Linked DNA regions of Homo sapiens: region 2 is linked to region 1. The links come from fine-mapping of genetic effects on gene expression. Tissue or cell type: whole blood. Region 1 holds a variant in brackets; the other region holds the start of a gene. All regions are shown on one strand. Distances are from middle to middle.

Region 1 (8,113 bases):
TGCAAGGGGCCCAACGTACGCCTAAAAGCAGTCTCTGGATACATAGGAGGGGGCAAAAAGTATTCAAAGAACTTACAGTTGAAAACTGAGATTTAAATACTGAAATTGAAATGTTTCCAAATTGCTAGAACTATAAGCATATAGATCTAGAAAGTCCACGAACCCCAAGCAAAAGAAACATAAGAAAATCTACTTACATGTACATTATAATTAAGTTCTTCAAAACTAGTGATAAAAAAATATTAAAAGCATTAGATAAGAAATGTTTTATGCAGAGGATTGTCAAACTTTGTTTATTAAAAGTTAAATTATTCATCTTTTTTTTTTTTTTTTTTACAACTGCCCACTGACTCACTCAGGACAGCAAAGCCAGTAATGCTATGTTCAATCAAGCATTCTAGGCCCAAGTCACAACTCACACCACTGCACTCCCAACCCTGGTTCATTCCCTTTTGTGTACACACAGCTGCGATAGTTTTACTCCCTACCACCCCCACCATTCTTCTTCAGTGTCATGTCTTGGTTCACTTGAATCACCTTCCTCTGAAAGTTATTCCTCTTTCTCAAAGATGAAGTCTTCATGTTCATATACATTCTCAAGACACATCCTCTCATGGAATCTACTGTCTTCCCTGTAATGGTCATTCATTTAGTGCCCTTGCTTGTTTAAGACAACTAATGATTCTATACAATCATGAATTCAAATCTTAAGTAACATGAGGGAAGAAGAACTAACTTCTTATAACTTGAGAATGTGGTGGGGTTTGTTTGTTTGTTTGTTTTTTGGAGACAAGTTCTCATTTTGTTGCTCAGGCTGGAGTACAGTAGCGCAATCACAGCTCACTGCAGCCTCAACCTCCAAGGCTTGAGTGATTCTTCCACCTCAGCTTCCCAAGCAGCTGGGACTACAGGTGCACATCGCCACGCCCAGCTAAGTTTTGTATTATTTATAGAAAATACGTAATACACCTGCACATCACCACACACAGCTAATTTTTGTATTATTTATAGAACATACATTTATAGAACATAAATATGTTGCTGAAGCTGGTCTCAAAATCCTGAGTTCAAGGGATTCACCTACATCAGCCTCCCAAAGTGCTGGGATTATAGGTGTAAACCACCATACCTGGCCTAGTGTCTTTTCAATGACAAAAACAAGAGTAAGATTATCCACTTCAATAAGCAAAAAGCAGTAATTTAATTTGATGTGATTTTTAAGAAAATCTTTGTTTCCTCTGAGGAACTGGTATGTTGTCTCTCCAGAATTCAGGAGAAATGTGTAATTGACCAGACCAGAGGTCCCCAAGCCCCAGGCCACAGACCGGTACTGTGGCCTGTTAGGAACCTGGAGCACAGCAGGAGGTGAACAGGGAATGAGTGAGCAAAGCTTCACCTATATTTACAACCACTCCCCATTGCTGGCATTACCACCAGAGCTCTGCTTCCTGTCAGGTCCGCAGAGGCATTTGATTCTCATAGGAGCACAAACCCTGTTGTGAACTGCACATGCGAGGGATCTAGGTTGTGTGCTTCTTATGAGAATCCAATACCTGATGATCTGTCACTGTCTCCCGTCACCCCCAGATGGGACTATCTAGTTGCACAAAAATAAGCTCAGGGCTCCCACTGATTCTACATTACGGTGAGTTGTAGAATTATTTCATTATATATTACAATGTAATAATAATAGAAATAAAGTGCACAATAAATGTAACGCACTTGAACCATCCCAAACCATCCCCCTCTTGCTCCCATCCATAGAAAAATTATCTTTCATGAAACCGGTCCCTGGGGCCAAAAAGTTTGGGGACCACTGGACCAGACCATTCCTTTTTGTGTTTGCCAAAGAAATAGCATAAAAGGGCTGGGCATGGTGGCTCATACCTGTAATCCCAGCACTTTAGGAGGCTAAGACCGGAGGATTACCTGAGGTCAGGAGTTTGAGACCAGCCTGGACAACATGGTGAAGCCCTATCTCTACTAAAAATACAAAAACTAGCCCGGCTTGGTGGTGCTTGCCTGTAATCGCAGCTACTCGGGAGGCCAAGGCAGGAGAATTGCTTGAACCTGGGAGGCGGAGGTTGCAGTAAGCCAGGATCGCACCACTGCACTCCAGCCTGGGCAACAGAGTGAGACCCCATCTCAAAAAGAAAATAGTATAATAACAAATAATCACTCACTGTCCCAAACTCCAGAGTGAAAGGTTAGTATGTTAACATCTGTAGTTAATGCTAGTGAGGCAACATATGTTAGCTCCAGTTTATGGAACTTCAGAAATCCCGATTACAAAATTATGACTACATTAAATAAGTCGTTGATAATGATGGTAAATGAACGAAACATGGCACTTGCGGCTGCTTTCAATTATCCTTTCCTTAACCAGAAAACATGCTCTTAAATACCTGAGACTTTCTCCTGGTCTGGATCTTCTCTAGCTTCACAGACCCAAGACCCTTTATATTACCTTAATACGCTATCCATTTTTAAAGTATTATGTGACTTTGAAACCACTTCGTACTGACTTGCCTCAACATATAATGGAAGTTAATAATCAAAGGGGTGTTGCAAATGTAAATTTTAAAATGTGTTTAAAAGGTAACTGATAAATTAATACCCAAGTTTTATCTAGGTCAAGCAGAAAACTTTGGGACAAATACAAAAATTAGCCTGGCATGGTGGCGGGAGCCTGTAGTCCCAGCTGCTCTGGAGGCTGAGGTAGGAGAATCAGTTGAACCCAGGAGGCAGAGGTTGCAGTGAGCGGGAGATTTTGCCACTGCACTCCAGCCTGGGCAACAGAGTGAGACCCCGTCTCAAAAAAAGAAAAGAAAAGAAAAGAAAAGTTTGGAACAATGTGACACAGAAGCAGATGTTCTTAACCTTCTCTTTGTCTAGCTACAGAACCCAAACCAAGGGGAAGGATCTTTAACAGGAATAATACATGTTACTGAAAGGGCTCTGGCGCCTTTGGGTATGCTAAAATGTTTGGGGCCAAATGACTCAGGGGAACTTTTTTCTTTGCTCATCCTTTCTTGGTTTCCAGCACTCATAACAGCCCCCCTAAAAAAAAAAAAAAAAAAAAAAAAAAGCAAAACGTTATCACCACCTTGGGAAATGGTAAGGACTTAAGAGAGAGAGTGGTTGAGGGGATGTAAATGTTTCCTTCTAGGTTGACAGCCTAACGCACCAGGATAGAAATAAAGGCAGAGACTCAGGACAGAAGTTGAATTCCTAGGAAATCTGAGCATGACGGACAACGTATGTACAACAAGTGATCCTAATGGTCTTCGAGAAAACAAAAGGACTACTATACTCCTCACTTTGTTAGAGTTGAAAACCATAAAGCTAGAGTGATGGCAGCTCCTGCGAACTCTGATGAAACCACAAAGGAAGTCATTGGGTCAAGAAATGCATTACGAGCCACCATGGGACACTACCACCCTTCTGCTTAGCAGAGCTCAGAGTAAGGGTCCCTTCCTGTGTGAAAGGCACTGACTGCT[A/G]CAGCCTCCAGGAGTCCTTCTCACTGCATATGTGTGATAAATGTGAGATTCATTATTTTGTTCTTTGTAGAAAATTAAGTATGAAATAATTTCTTACTCTTTTTTCAAGTTGTTTCAAGGATGCTTCTCAATAAATTCTTTTTTAAAAAATTGACGATTTCCCCAAGAGTTTCTCCACTGGTTGCAAACCGTATATTTAATTTTCTTGGAAGCATTTTGATATATGATAAGGGCACAAGTTTGATACCAGAGAAGGCAAGATATTAGTTTGAGTTGTGTCACTTACTATATTTATAACTTTGGTCCAGTTGAATTCCCTAATCTACTTTTTCCACATCTGTAAAATGAAGGGGATAAAAGTATCCTCATCACAAGGTTTTTCTAGGGATTGAATGAGAAAGCATTGTTAACTGTTGTTATTGTTTCTTCTGTCTTCTTTGTTTGCAATTCAATACTGTTTCTCCTTTGGTGCAGTTTTACTATTTCTCTTTCTTTCATGAAATACCTTATGTATAAAATCCTCATAATGTGGCAGAATCAAGGACTGCCTCAGTAGTTTACTGTAAGGGATGTTAGCAACTCCCCTGTCCCCTGTTAAGCCTAATTTAGAATCTCCCCCACCGGTTGGCTGATGCCAATGACTCCATGTTTGGAAATACATTTACTTTGTTTATGGGTAGAATAATAGAGGACACATTATCCGTCGTATATAGTTTATTGTATGTGAGTTTAAACCTGATATAATTATAGATGCAAATGGAATTCAAAATTGATATTTTCAAGTGTGAACATGTTAAAATCTCCATTGTAACAGAATGGTAATGATGTTCTATCTAAGCATATGATTCAAAGAAAACAAAAAGTGCAATCATCAAGCGGAAAGTATACTTATGGCCAGGCATGGTGGCTCACGCCTGTAATCCCAACACATTGGGAGGCCGAGGTGGGTGGATCACCTGAGGTCAGGAGTTCAAGACCAGCCTAGACAACATGGTGAAACCCCATCTCTACTAAAAATACAAAAAGTAGCCGGGTGTGGTGGCGGGCACCTGTAATCCCAGCTACTTGGGAGGCTGAGGCAGGAGAATCACTTGAACCCAGGAGGCGGAGGTTGCAGTGAGCCGAGATCACGCCATTGCACTCCAGCCTGGGCAACAGAGAGAGACTCTGAAAAAAAAAAAAGAAAGAAAAGAAGAAAAGAAGGGAAGGAAGGAAGGAAGGAAGGAAGGAAGGAAGGAAGGAAGGAAGGAAGGAAGGAAAAGAAAATACATTTAAATAAAACTGATTTCACACAATAAAATAAACATAAAAATAAAATATTAAGAAGTTTATTAGTGTCAATAAAGCAGACAAAACATACTTATCATTACCATAATTGTTTTCAACACAATATTGTTTTCTGTGCCATAAAGAACAATAGTCATGTACCATTTTTTTAAAAAGAGTGCCCCTCTAATGTCTCCAAGATTTTCTTTGTAGCTTCTGATGCTCATTATTTAGAGTTTTTTGATGGTGATTTCTTGATCTGTAAAAGTCTCATAGATTTTTTTTTAAAACAGGATTAGAAAAATTGTGGGGAAAAAAACAGGATCAGAGAATTTCCATTCCATCCTATGACGGTGTCTAAATGATGTGATGAGTAAAACATGCAGGACCAACAATGTACATAACTTCACTGAAGCAGTGACACTAGCACCAGTGAAAATCAAGGTCACGCATGTGCACATTGCAACTGTCTCCTGGCCAGCAGTGACTGTAAGACTTCATATATTTTGAGAGGCATGCTAATTTCAGAGACATTAAAATGTAAAAAACAATATGTATTAGTCCGTACTCATGCTGCTATAGGGACATACTCGAGACTGGGTAATTTGTAAAGGAAAGAGGTTTAATTGACTCACAGCTCTGCATGGCTGCAGAGGTCTCAATCGTGGCAGAAGGGGAAGCAAATACGTCCCTCTTCACTGGGTGGCCGGGACAGAGAAATGCCAAGTAAAGGGAGAAAAGCCCCTTATAAAACCATCAGATGTTATGAGAACTCACTCACTATCATGAGAATAGCATGGGTGCAACTGCTCCCATGATTTAATTACCTTCCCACTTGGTCCCTCCCATGACATGTGGGGATTAGGGGAACTTCAATTCAAGATGAGATTTGGTTTGGGACAGAGCCAAACTATACCACAATGTATCTTAGACTCACTAAATTAGATTAAAGAAAATAAAATATGAAAGTGAAGCAAACTCTATTATAAAAATGAATAAGTCTTAAAAAACACACAAAACACTGCATCAAGCCTAAGATGGAAAGGTATTAAATTTTCTAAAAATGTTATACAAAAATTAGTACATCTACTTACACAAAAAGTGTAAGCATATAAAATTTAACACATCTACTTGGATAAGATGTTTGAAAAAAATAAATTATAAATGTTAACCAACTAACTAAATCACATTCCAATAAATTGTTCTCATGACTTAGATGATATTAGAAATATAAAAATTCAGACAGTATGATAAAGGTTAAACAAATTACAAATGCAGTTGAGCTTAGCTCAGTAGAAGTATGTGGAGAATTCAGCATCATGGAAAATATTATTGATATAAATAGAAATTCCCCCCTGAGGTCAGGAGTTCAAGACCAGTCTGGCCAACATGGTGAAACCCCATCTCTACTAAAAATACAAAAATTAGCCAGGCGTGGCAGTGCACATCTGTAATCCAAGCTACTCGAGAGGCTAAGGCAGGAGAATCACTTGAACCCAGGAGGCGGAGGTTGCAGTGAGCCGAGATCGTGCCACGGCACTCCAGACTGGGTGACAGAGCAAGACTCTATCTCAAAAAAAAAAAAAAAAAGAAAAGAAAAGAAAAGAAAAAGAAAAAAGAAATTCCCTACTCATTTAGACTAAGAAACATCTGCTGACTCTCCATTTAATGGGACTATGAAGGAAGACTTCAATGTGGTTCATTATTTGAATTCAGACTAACAGATGTGAAATATCTAAACATAGCCAAAACAAATTAAAAAACCTCACATCAACCATCCTAAAAAACAAAAATTATTTGCACATTATAGGAATGATTTGACAAATGACATGTTCTTCAATATTCCATTTGGTCAATAGTTTTATGGTATATAATTACAGAATAAAATAGAATATGCATTTTAATTTTATCCATAGAATAATATTGTATGCCAACATATATTACTATACACCATAGTGTAAATTCAAATTTTGTAGATATGTGGAAGAGTTTTCTCAGACAGGTCACAAATCATGTTTCCTACCCTATCTTGTGAAGCAGTCACTGTGTTGAAGCAAGAGGATAATTCTGAACTGTATAAGAACCTGTTATACACACTTCATCTATATCATTTATTACATTGCATTATCACTGATGTTTATTAGTATTTCCACTGGACTGAGTTCCTTAAAAATGTAGTATATATTCATAATTTTAATACCATGTAATTTTATGTTCACTAGTATATAATACACACAAAATGTGTGTATATGGGATGAAAAAAAAATCCCCACAATTTCTGCATTCAGACTATAGTGACAAGTTTGCACTTATATCTTTCCAGTCAGAGGTTTCTAAACACACAGAACCAAGAAAGGAGGGAGCAATATACAATTAAGTAGGGCAACTTAATATAAATTCAACTTTACATAAATCCTAGGGATATTATAAAATTTGCCCTCTCAATGAAAATGCTATCATGAGATGAAATGCATTGTATGTTAAAATATCATAACATTTCAAACAAACAAACAAACAAATGCTTCTTTTTAAAGTAAATTGGCCAGGCATGGTAGCTCACATCTGTAATCCCAGCACATTGGGAGGCTGAGGCAGTAGGATCACTTAAGTCTGGAGCCCGAGGTTACAGTAAGCTGTGATCATGCCACTGCACTTCAACCTGGGTGACAGGGTAAGACTTTTCCTCCAAAATAAAGTAAAATAAATGTTTCTTAAGGGAAATAAAACATGAAAAGAGAGAAACTATAATAGGAAATAAAGTACACATTGAAAGCATGGCAAAACTTCCAAAAGTACTTTGACTGTCATGGAAGTTGGCAGGTTTAATTTAATCATACGTCATTATCTATATGTTGGCTCAATGAGGACAAGTAGACAGTACACAGAAAGACAAGTACATGTACAGAAATTAATGATTAAATAATCAATATACAATAGTATGTACAGGTTTATTTATATAGTTAAATTCAAACAGAGAGTTAAAAATTACTGGAAAATTGAGCTAAAAATAAAACAGATTTTCATGTATTCACATACTGTCTTTCTGCAAGCTTATCTTTCTGAAATGGAATAAACCTTTCTTAGACTATTAGTTGTTCCAATTGCTAGCTAGGCGGAATTGAGCTTTTCTTGTTTTATTTCATTTATTTACTTATTTTTTGTTTTTGAGATGGAGTCTTGCTCTGTCGCCCAGGCTGGAGTGCAGTGGCGCAATCTTGGCTCATTGCAACCTCCACTTACCAGGTTCAAGCGATTCTCCTGCTGCAGCCTCCTGAGTAGCTGGGATTACAAGCAGGTGTCACCATGCCCTGCTAATTTTTGTATTTTTTGTAGAGGCAGAGTTTCAC
Region 2 (8,113 bases), 59 kb before region 1:
TTGCACCAGTGCACTCCAGCCTGGGCAACAGAGTAAAACTCTGTCTCAAAAAAAAAAAAAAAAAAAGAAAAGAAAAGAATTGGGTACGTTTTCTTACCATATTTCCATACTAGCTTATATCCCAGAAAGATGACAAAAACTATAAAATTATAAAAGATATTATAAATTCAATTAAAAGAGTTAAGAATCACAGTCATTTAGTTGGTTCTTCAAATAAAATGGGTAAATATAATGACCTATTATCTTCTTTGAATTCTTCCTGAAAAGTTTCTTTCACTTTATTTGGCACCTATCTTGATTTGTATTCCCATGATATAATCATTAAGGAATTTAATAAAGATTTTACAATGACTACTTTAAGGTACACAGAACAGATAACTCAATTCCAATATAACCATCCACTTACTATGTGATTAATGACTTAAACCAAAGTATTTAACTTGTTTAGATAGTATATTTTTCTAGATCAAAGAAAATGTAGAAAATCAGACTCAGCACATGCCAGTTCATCTGTGTTTTGAAGCTGAAGCAGGCTGGATTTCTGAGAAGCACAGAGATGCCGACTTTCGTTCCAAGTTTTCTGTTCACTGGAAATGAAGTAACAGTTGCACCGGTACCCAACCCATTTTTCTTGGCAAGAACAGCAGTCAGAGTCTGACAGAAAACATAAAGCATGACTAATGACACTGGAGACTAGACATTTTTTTCAATGCTATTTAATTATTCAAAAATTATTTGCTGTGTATTCTTTTAACATTCAGAATCTACTGTATACACCACACTTCAGGGGCTACTAATGTGAACTAATTAGACATGAACATGATGCTTTTTCCTCATGGAGATTATATTCTAGAGATAGAATTACAATTATATAATTTTCAATAATTTATTAACGATATTTAGTGATGATTTAGATAAGTACAAAAAAATTAAGTATGTTAAAACAGCATGTAGCAGAGTGTAAGATGAGGGGCAGTTACAAGAACCTTTTTTTGAGGAAGTGACTCAAAACTAAGTACTGTAGCATAAATAGGAGTTAACTAGATGAAAAAGATTTAAAGGAGGAAAACATTTTAGCATACTTTCTGAGTCAGAAAAGAATATGGTACATTTGGAGAATTTTGATATATGTTTGGATATCTTATTTTTGAAAAGGGAATATAAATAAACCAATTATCTTGAGGCTTAATTATACAGTTTATCAATAATAGTGTCTTCAACGTTTGTTACCCACGGTAATAAAAACATGACACGTCATAGGCACTCAAATCTTTGCCATATAAGTAGTGCTGAAGATGTTGCACTATTATTTTTATATTTTTTAATTGTTTTTGAGACAGAGTCTTGCTGTGTTGCCCAGGCTGGAGTGCAGTGGCACCATCTCAGCTCCCTTCAACCTCCGCCTCCCAGGTTCAAGTGATTCTCATGCCTCAGCCTCCTGAGTAACTGATACTACAGGTGCGTGCCGCCATGCCTGGCTAATTTTTGTATTTTTAGTACAGACGGGGTTGGCCTGTCTTGAACTTCTGACCTCAAGTAATATGCCTACCTCAGCCTCCCAAAGAGCTGGGATTACAGACGTGAGCCACTGTGCCTGGCCAAGATGTTGCACTGTAAATAAACACTATATAATCAAGATGATGGTGAGACAACTTGGGGCGCATTCCGAAAAATACATATTTAGAAAATTGAGGCCGGGCGCAGTGGCTCTGCTGGGTACGGCATAATCCCAACACTTTGGAAGCCGAGGCAGGTGGATGACCTGAGGTCAGGAGTTCGAGACCAGCCTGGCCAACATGGCGAAACCCTGACTCTACTAATAACACAAAAATTAGCTGGGCATGGTGGCGGGCGCCTGTAGTCCCAGCTACTTGGGAGGCTGAGGCAGGAAGGTGGGAGAATCACTTGAACCAGGGAGGCTGATGTGGCAGTGAGCCAAGATCGTGCCACTGCACTCCAGCCTGGACGACAAGAGCAAAACTCCATCTCCAAAAACGAAAATTGGACTTTGAGCTGGCTTTCACTGGATAAGTAAGGTTTAGAAATCTGTGCAGTATATTCTGGAAAAGGAAAAGTAGTGAGATGCAAAAGTATAGGTTATAAGCAAATTCAGGCAGGTAATGAGGATTAACTGTAACATTTCCTGTGGTTTATTTTTTGTTACTTAATTATGAGCACTCATATAGGAAACATATCTTTCGTTTCAGGCTACTATTTTCCTGATTAGTTAAATGTACAAATGATACACATTCAGTGTAATTTAATCATTTTTACATTAGATTGAGCAATGTAAAATGAGACTATCCTACACTGGTAGGCAAATTTCTATTACTAAGTATAATATTCCATCATGCCTCTCTGTGTGAAAAACAAGAAACTGCCTATTTAATCTTTTACCAATGCTAAGTTTTCCAAAAAATGTGACCTACCTTTCTGGAGTTCTATGTTGGGTCCTGGAGTAAATGCTGGCTCAATACTCAGTTTAGTAAAAGCTATAAGAAATGATTAGAAATTTGTTTAATTAGGTATGGGTTTATGAAATACTAAAATATTACACATTAGCAAGATGAAGCCTTTATTATTAAATGATGTCTTCACAGTTTTGATTTTTATGGAGACTTGCTTAGAAAAACTTACAATTTTTCAACAAAATTCCCAACGTAGACATCAACGAAAGGCATATTATCCCTAAGGTCCCAGAAATTAACCTCCACAGAGTGGTCTTAAACACTGTAGAGAAAGACAGACAGAGTAATGACTTAAAGAGCAAACTCAGGAGCTGAGTTCTTAAAAGCAGAAACTAGTGACGGAGAATCCACAACATTCTTTCATTTGATAACGGAGTCATCTTGCCAATAAAACACTGAAGACTTTCCAATCGGGACTTCACCCAATACCAACATTTTTATGTGATGTATCTTATTCTTCAGGAAGATTATTCAAACATTTTCTTCTCTACCAGCTCTGTTGCAGTAAAGTGAATTTACCATTTATTTTAAATTGGCAGAGGTGCTTAAAGATCTGGAGGTAGAAGATATTAACAAGCACCACGTTGTGTTTTATGGACTTACATAACAGGCATTTATTTTTATTCTCTCAACAAAATCACAAGATAGATAGTATGGTTCTCATTACATAGATGAGAAAACATAAGGTCCAATAATAATGTTATTTTCTCAAGGTATCAAAGCAAGTAAGTATCCAAGTCAGAAATCACATGAAAGTGTGTCTAGCTCAAGAATCTTTCATTCAACGTAGTCTACCATTGTCACAATAATACTAGTTGAGAGTATGCCCTCTCCTCATCTCAGTGCAGGTTTTGCTCTGATAAATGTCTAGCTGCTCATTGGTTCGTAGAGATATTATAGGGAAAAGAAGACATAGGAACATTCTGGACTTGGTGTGATAACTGATAACAAATTGATGGGTAACAACTTTGAGGCCTGGCTTCATTTCACAGTATATTGAACATACATAAACAATCCTTTTTCCCCTAGAACATTCCATTTGTTCATACTCAAAATTACTTGCTTTTAGGCCTTTCACCTAAAACATTTCAACATTAGGAGATTCTGTGCTAACGTGAACACACTCTCAAAGAGTGATGTCATTAACAACAGTACAATGTGTCAAACTGTTCATTTGTGTAATTTTTGGATGTCACAACATAAATAGTCAATTAAAACCTTTTCAGCATTGTGTCATTAATATTTGGCATTTTCTATTGCTATACTAGAACACTGTTGCTCACAATTTAACCAGGCTAAAGTTCAGTTCTCACTCAGAATTTAAAGGTAGCCCTGTCAGAAACCACTCTTCAAACCTGTGGAAAAAACTTCATGAAATCATGTCTAAGTTATACAATGAAGAATCAGGAAAATATAATGAATGTGGAAAGTGCTAATGCATGAAAATCCTAAAAACATCCACTGTTAATCATGTCCTTTTCTCTTAAAGCATTACCCCAAAATCAGCCAATCCAAGAAATAGCTTTTCTGGTTATTTTTAATTTAGTGACTGAAATCACACATACCTGCCATGAGAAATTATGTTCCAAGAGCGAAGTAGAGAAGGCACGATGTGTACTTTTTCAGAAAGAACAGCGTTGAATTGTTGAAGCTGAGCTGGAGATTAAAGAATCTGAAAGTTGAGTATGAAGAAATTTAGCAAAAATAGAGAATGAAAAATTGTGTATTTAAATGATGTTCTTGAATCATCTATTGGTGAGACATGTATTATAGTGTGAATAAGAAGCAGTAGAATCACAAGCCTCTGAAGTGTTCCAGGAACCACAATACAGGAAATTCTCACAGTACTTTTGCAATATTAACACTTTGGCAAGGACTAAAGAAGGTGAGAGGAGGTCAGAGGGAGTTTTGTTGCTGTTTTGTTTTTTATTGTTTGAAAATCAAATTCATTTTAAAGGGTTATCTGGAAAATGAAGGAAATGATGGGCAAACCAAAGGTAAATTTACTTAGCATAACAAAATTACTTACAGAATTTTCCTCTTTTAATAATAAACATTTATTATTTACCTTGTACTTAACACAATTTAAAGCACTTGGCATATCTTAGCTCATTTATTTCTGTAAATGGCTTGATAGTAAAGATATATAAATATCTTCAATCTATCAAAGAGAAAACTGAGGCATACAGAGCTAAGTAATTTGCCCAAGGTCACATAAATTGGGATTTCCATGTCTCACTCTGTTCTTCTGATCTCTACCTAATTATCCTGGCCACGACAGGCAAAGTTCAAAAAAGTAGAACTGGATGGGTTTCCCACTTGGACGCCTCATTCACGTTAGCCTTAAAAGCTTTTTTCAACACCTCAATTTTCATTTTCTTAAAGTTCTTTAAGCACGACTTCAGCTTCTTTATTTTCCTTATTTTTACTAATACATTATTATATTGTTTAGTGTGTTATCTAATTCAGATACTATACTGATACTTCGATATACACTTTTTCATCTACAGAAGAGTAACCTTGTTAATAGGAATATCAAATGTGGAACAGGTCAAATTTCCAATGTGGAAGAGATTGGCTATAATAAGAATCTTGAAAGGAGAGATTTCGATCCATGATTTAGTATCTGGAAATACAATCTACCATGCACCCCCATACAAAAGCAGACACTCAAATAAACGTTTTGTGTATTATATTTTGTATATTGTTTATGTTCAAGCATTATAATATTACTATAGATAAACCCTTTTGTAAAAGATGGGCTTTCAACCAACAACAGAAAAAAATGAAAGAAAAGACTACTTTGACTTCTCAGTTTTTATGAAGTCAAAACTTTCCATCTTTTCAGTTTGCATTGTGTGCCTAGAGCTGCTTTCATTGCACCAACAAATTTGTTGAGCTATAAATCCTCACTGAAGAATATAAGCGTAAAATCTACTTCATCCAGACTGTATGCAAATCTTAGTTGAAGTGATTTATTTAAAAATCCTTTGCTTACTTGAAATCTATTCATTTTTAGTGTTAGAAAAAGCTGGTCTGGAAGAAACCTGTCTGATACTATTTTTCCCCCATGTAAAATTGCCTCAAAATATAGGAGATTAGGGGTTTGCTTTTAGTTTTTCTCTTGAGAGAGTACAAATTTATGACAGAATGTGCAATAGGGATTATTACTACACTTTCATTACTAACACAACCACCTTTATTTGGAAGTTAGAGGTTCTAAGTTTTTAGAACCCTGTTTGGTGAGAATACGTCCATCAGTCATTGTCCTTTTTTTCATCTTAGTTCACTGACTTAGAAATAAAAATCCAACAAATACAAGTTTACTTCAAGAACTCCAGGCTTAAATATTTAAGATACCTAAACACACACACACACACACACATACACACACACAGTAAACATATATGTATATACCTCTTTAACTCTTTCTGAGCTGCCAACTCTGATTGTTCTTTTTTTGTTTGTTTTTGTTTGTTTGTTTTTTGAGATGGAGTCTCTGTCACCCAGGCTGGAGTGCAGTGGCTCACTCGGCTCACTGCAAGCTCCGCCTCCCGTGTTCACGCCATTCTCCTGCCTCGGCCTACCGAGTAGCTGGGGCTACAGGCTCCCGCCACCACGCCCAGCTAATTTTTTGTATTTTTTTTTTTTAGTAGAGACGGGGTTTCACCGTGTTAGCCAGGATTGTCTCGATCTCCTGACCTCGTGATCCGCCCGCCTCGGCCTCCCAAAGTGCTGGGATTACAGGCGTGAGCCACCGTGCCCGGCCTCTGTTCTTTCTATTTATTTTTGTACGTAGACAGGTGAATGATTTCCATGTACTGTATCTCTCCCACTCATCTCCACTTGTTCCTGAAGTTATCATTGCCTCGCCTATGTCCCTTGGAATATTTGGGGAACTATGGCCAACTAGTTATCTGTATAGCTGTATCTATGGGTTCTTTTTTTCTCCAATAACTGCTGAAAGCCTTGCTGTTCTCAGACATGCTAATCCGGAAGTGCTGAATAATCATCACCAGAATGGGCGTCAACAAACGAATCTTGTGATTTGCTATACAGTCCAGCAGTCTCAGCCCTAAAGTCAGGTAATTCTGAACATTGTGTTTTGCCCAGTTCCCAGAATTACTCAATAGTGTTATGTTCCAGTCACCTCCTCTAGAAGCTAGATTAAGAAAATAACCTTTATTGCGTTCCACTTTCCCTTTCCTATTACATTTCCTTTCCTACATTTATTGCATACACAATTCCAAATAAAGTTTCTACTCAAAGTATTCTCTGAGTGTGCTGCCGAGAGAAACCAGACTAAATTCCGCTGAAATATCCAGCTTCACTTACATAAATTTGCTTTTGAAAAGTTAGGTATCCTGCCAAAAGAACGTCTCTCTTTGCAGGACTTTCCATCCCCTAGTATCCATTGCAGGAAGATGCCCTCTTCCTCCCCTGCAATTTACTAGTGCCCTTGGTAAGAGCAAGTGATGACTTCAATAGCTAAGTCAACTTTTAAACCTTAGTCAAAAGCCAGGGAAAAGAAACTAATGTTCACTTAACATATAAACAGTGAAGTCTTTTCCCTACCTAAAAATGTATAACTAAAATGTTGCAGAACAAAATAACAGTATACGTTCTAGTATCCCCAAGGGAAAAATTTATTTTGATCTCACTGCTTTTAGAAAATGCATTCTTTGAGCGGAAAGAAAATTGCTCACATCAGGCTGCAAATTATTCTTTTAACAGAGAGAGAGGGCTCCCTGAGAAAAAACAAAAGACGTTACTGACCTGGTAAAATCTCATTGTAAACATGCTAATAACAAACCTACTAGCTATAGTGGTTTCTTATATATAGTGTGTTTTGCTTGCAAAATCCTTATCAATGGAATGATTTTAGCAGGATGTATTAGATTGTCTAAAATTGTTAGTGGTAAAATCAAATAAAAAAATAAAACTAAGGCTGGGCATAGTGGCTCACGCCTGTAATCTCAGCTCTTTTGGAGGCCAAGGCAGGTGGATCACCTGAGGTCAGGAGTTCAAGGCCAGCCTGGCCAACATGGAGAAACCCTGTCTCTACTAAAAATACAAAATTAGTCGGGCATGGTGGCACTCACCTGTAACCCCTGCTACTTGGGAGGCTGAGGCATTAGAGTCTCTTGAACTTGATGAGCTGAGATCGCACCATTGCACTCCAGCCTGGGTGACAAGAGCAAAACACACTATATAAAAAAAAAGCATAAAACTAGAATCTGTGGGTTTATGGAGGCTGGCTTCCTGGAAAAATGTCACATAAGCTATGTGTAACCATAACCATGTAACCATCTGAGTATAAAATGGAGATGTGTCATAACCAAAACATCTCCTTTTGTGTAAACGGTGCAGCCACAAACACCATTAAGAGACCTCATATGTTTATCTGTTTGTCTGGGCCAGAGTGTGTCCTAAGGGGAAAGTAAGAATGAGTGGGTGCTTTTGCAGGCCTGGGTTTTCCACTGTTTTGTCTGCATCTCACAATTATTGTATAACTGAAATTATGAGTAAAGCATGATACTGGGTGAAATCTCTGAGGATGCTTGTGATACTGATTTGACAATCCAATCCTTTATGTTACCTTCTTGAAGAACTGGTTAAGTTTTGTCCACATAGATAATGAGAAA

What was found. PIP is the estimated chance that this variant, and not a neighbour inherited with it, causes the effect.
Region 2: KLRD1 starts here. The variant in region 1 is fine-mapped to the expression of KLRD1 in whole blood (TOPMed, PIP 0.99).

Annotation. Positions count from the first base shown.
Region 1 is chr12:10,245,177-10,253,289 of GRCh38, reverse strand. It overlaps a transcript of KLRD1 not described here. Among named protein-coding and RNA genes, the nearest start is that of GABARAPL1-AS1, 34 kb to the right of the region's middle. The variant A/G (reference allele first, on the strand shown) is at 3,501.
Region 2 is chr12:10,304,005-10,312,117 of GRCh38, reverse strand. It overlaps KLRD1 (killer cell lectin like receptor D1), which reads right to left and starts at 4,248. Exons shown (of 6, transcript NM_002262.5): 1 at 4,034-4,248; 2 at 2,638-2,730; 3 at 2,430-2,492; 4 at 503-654. The coding sequence starts at 4,040.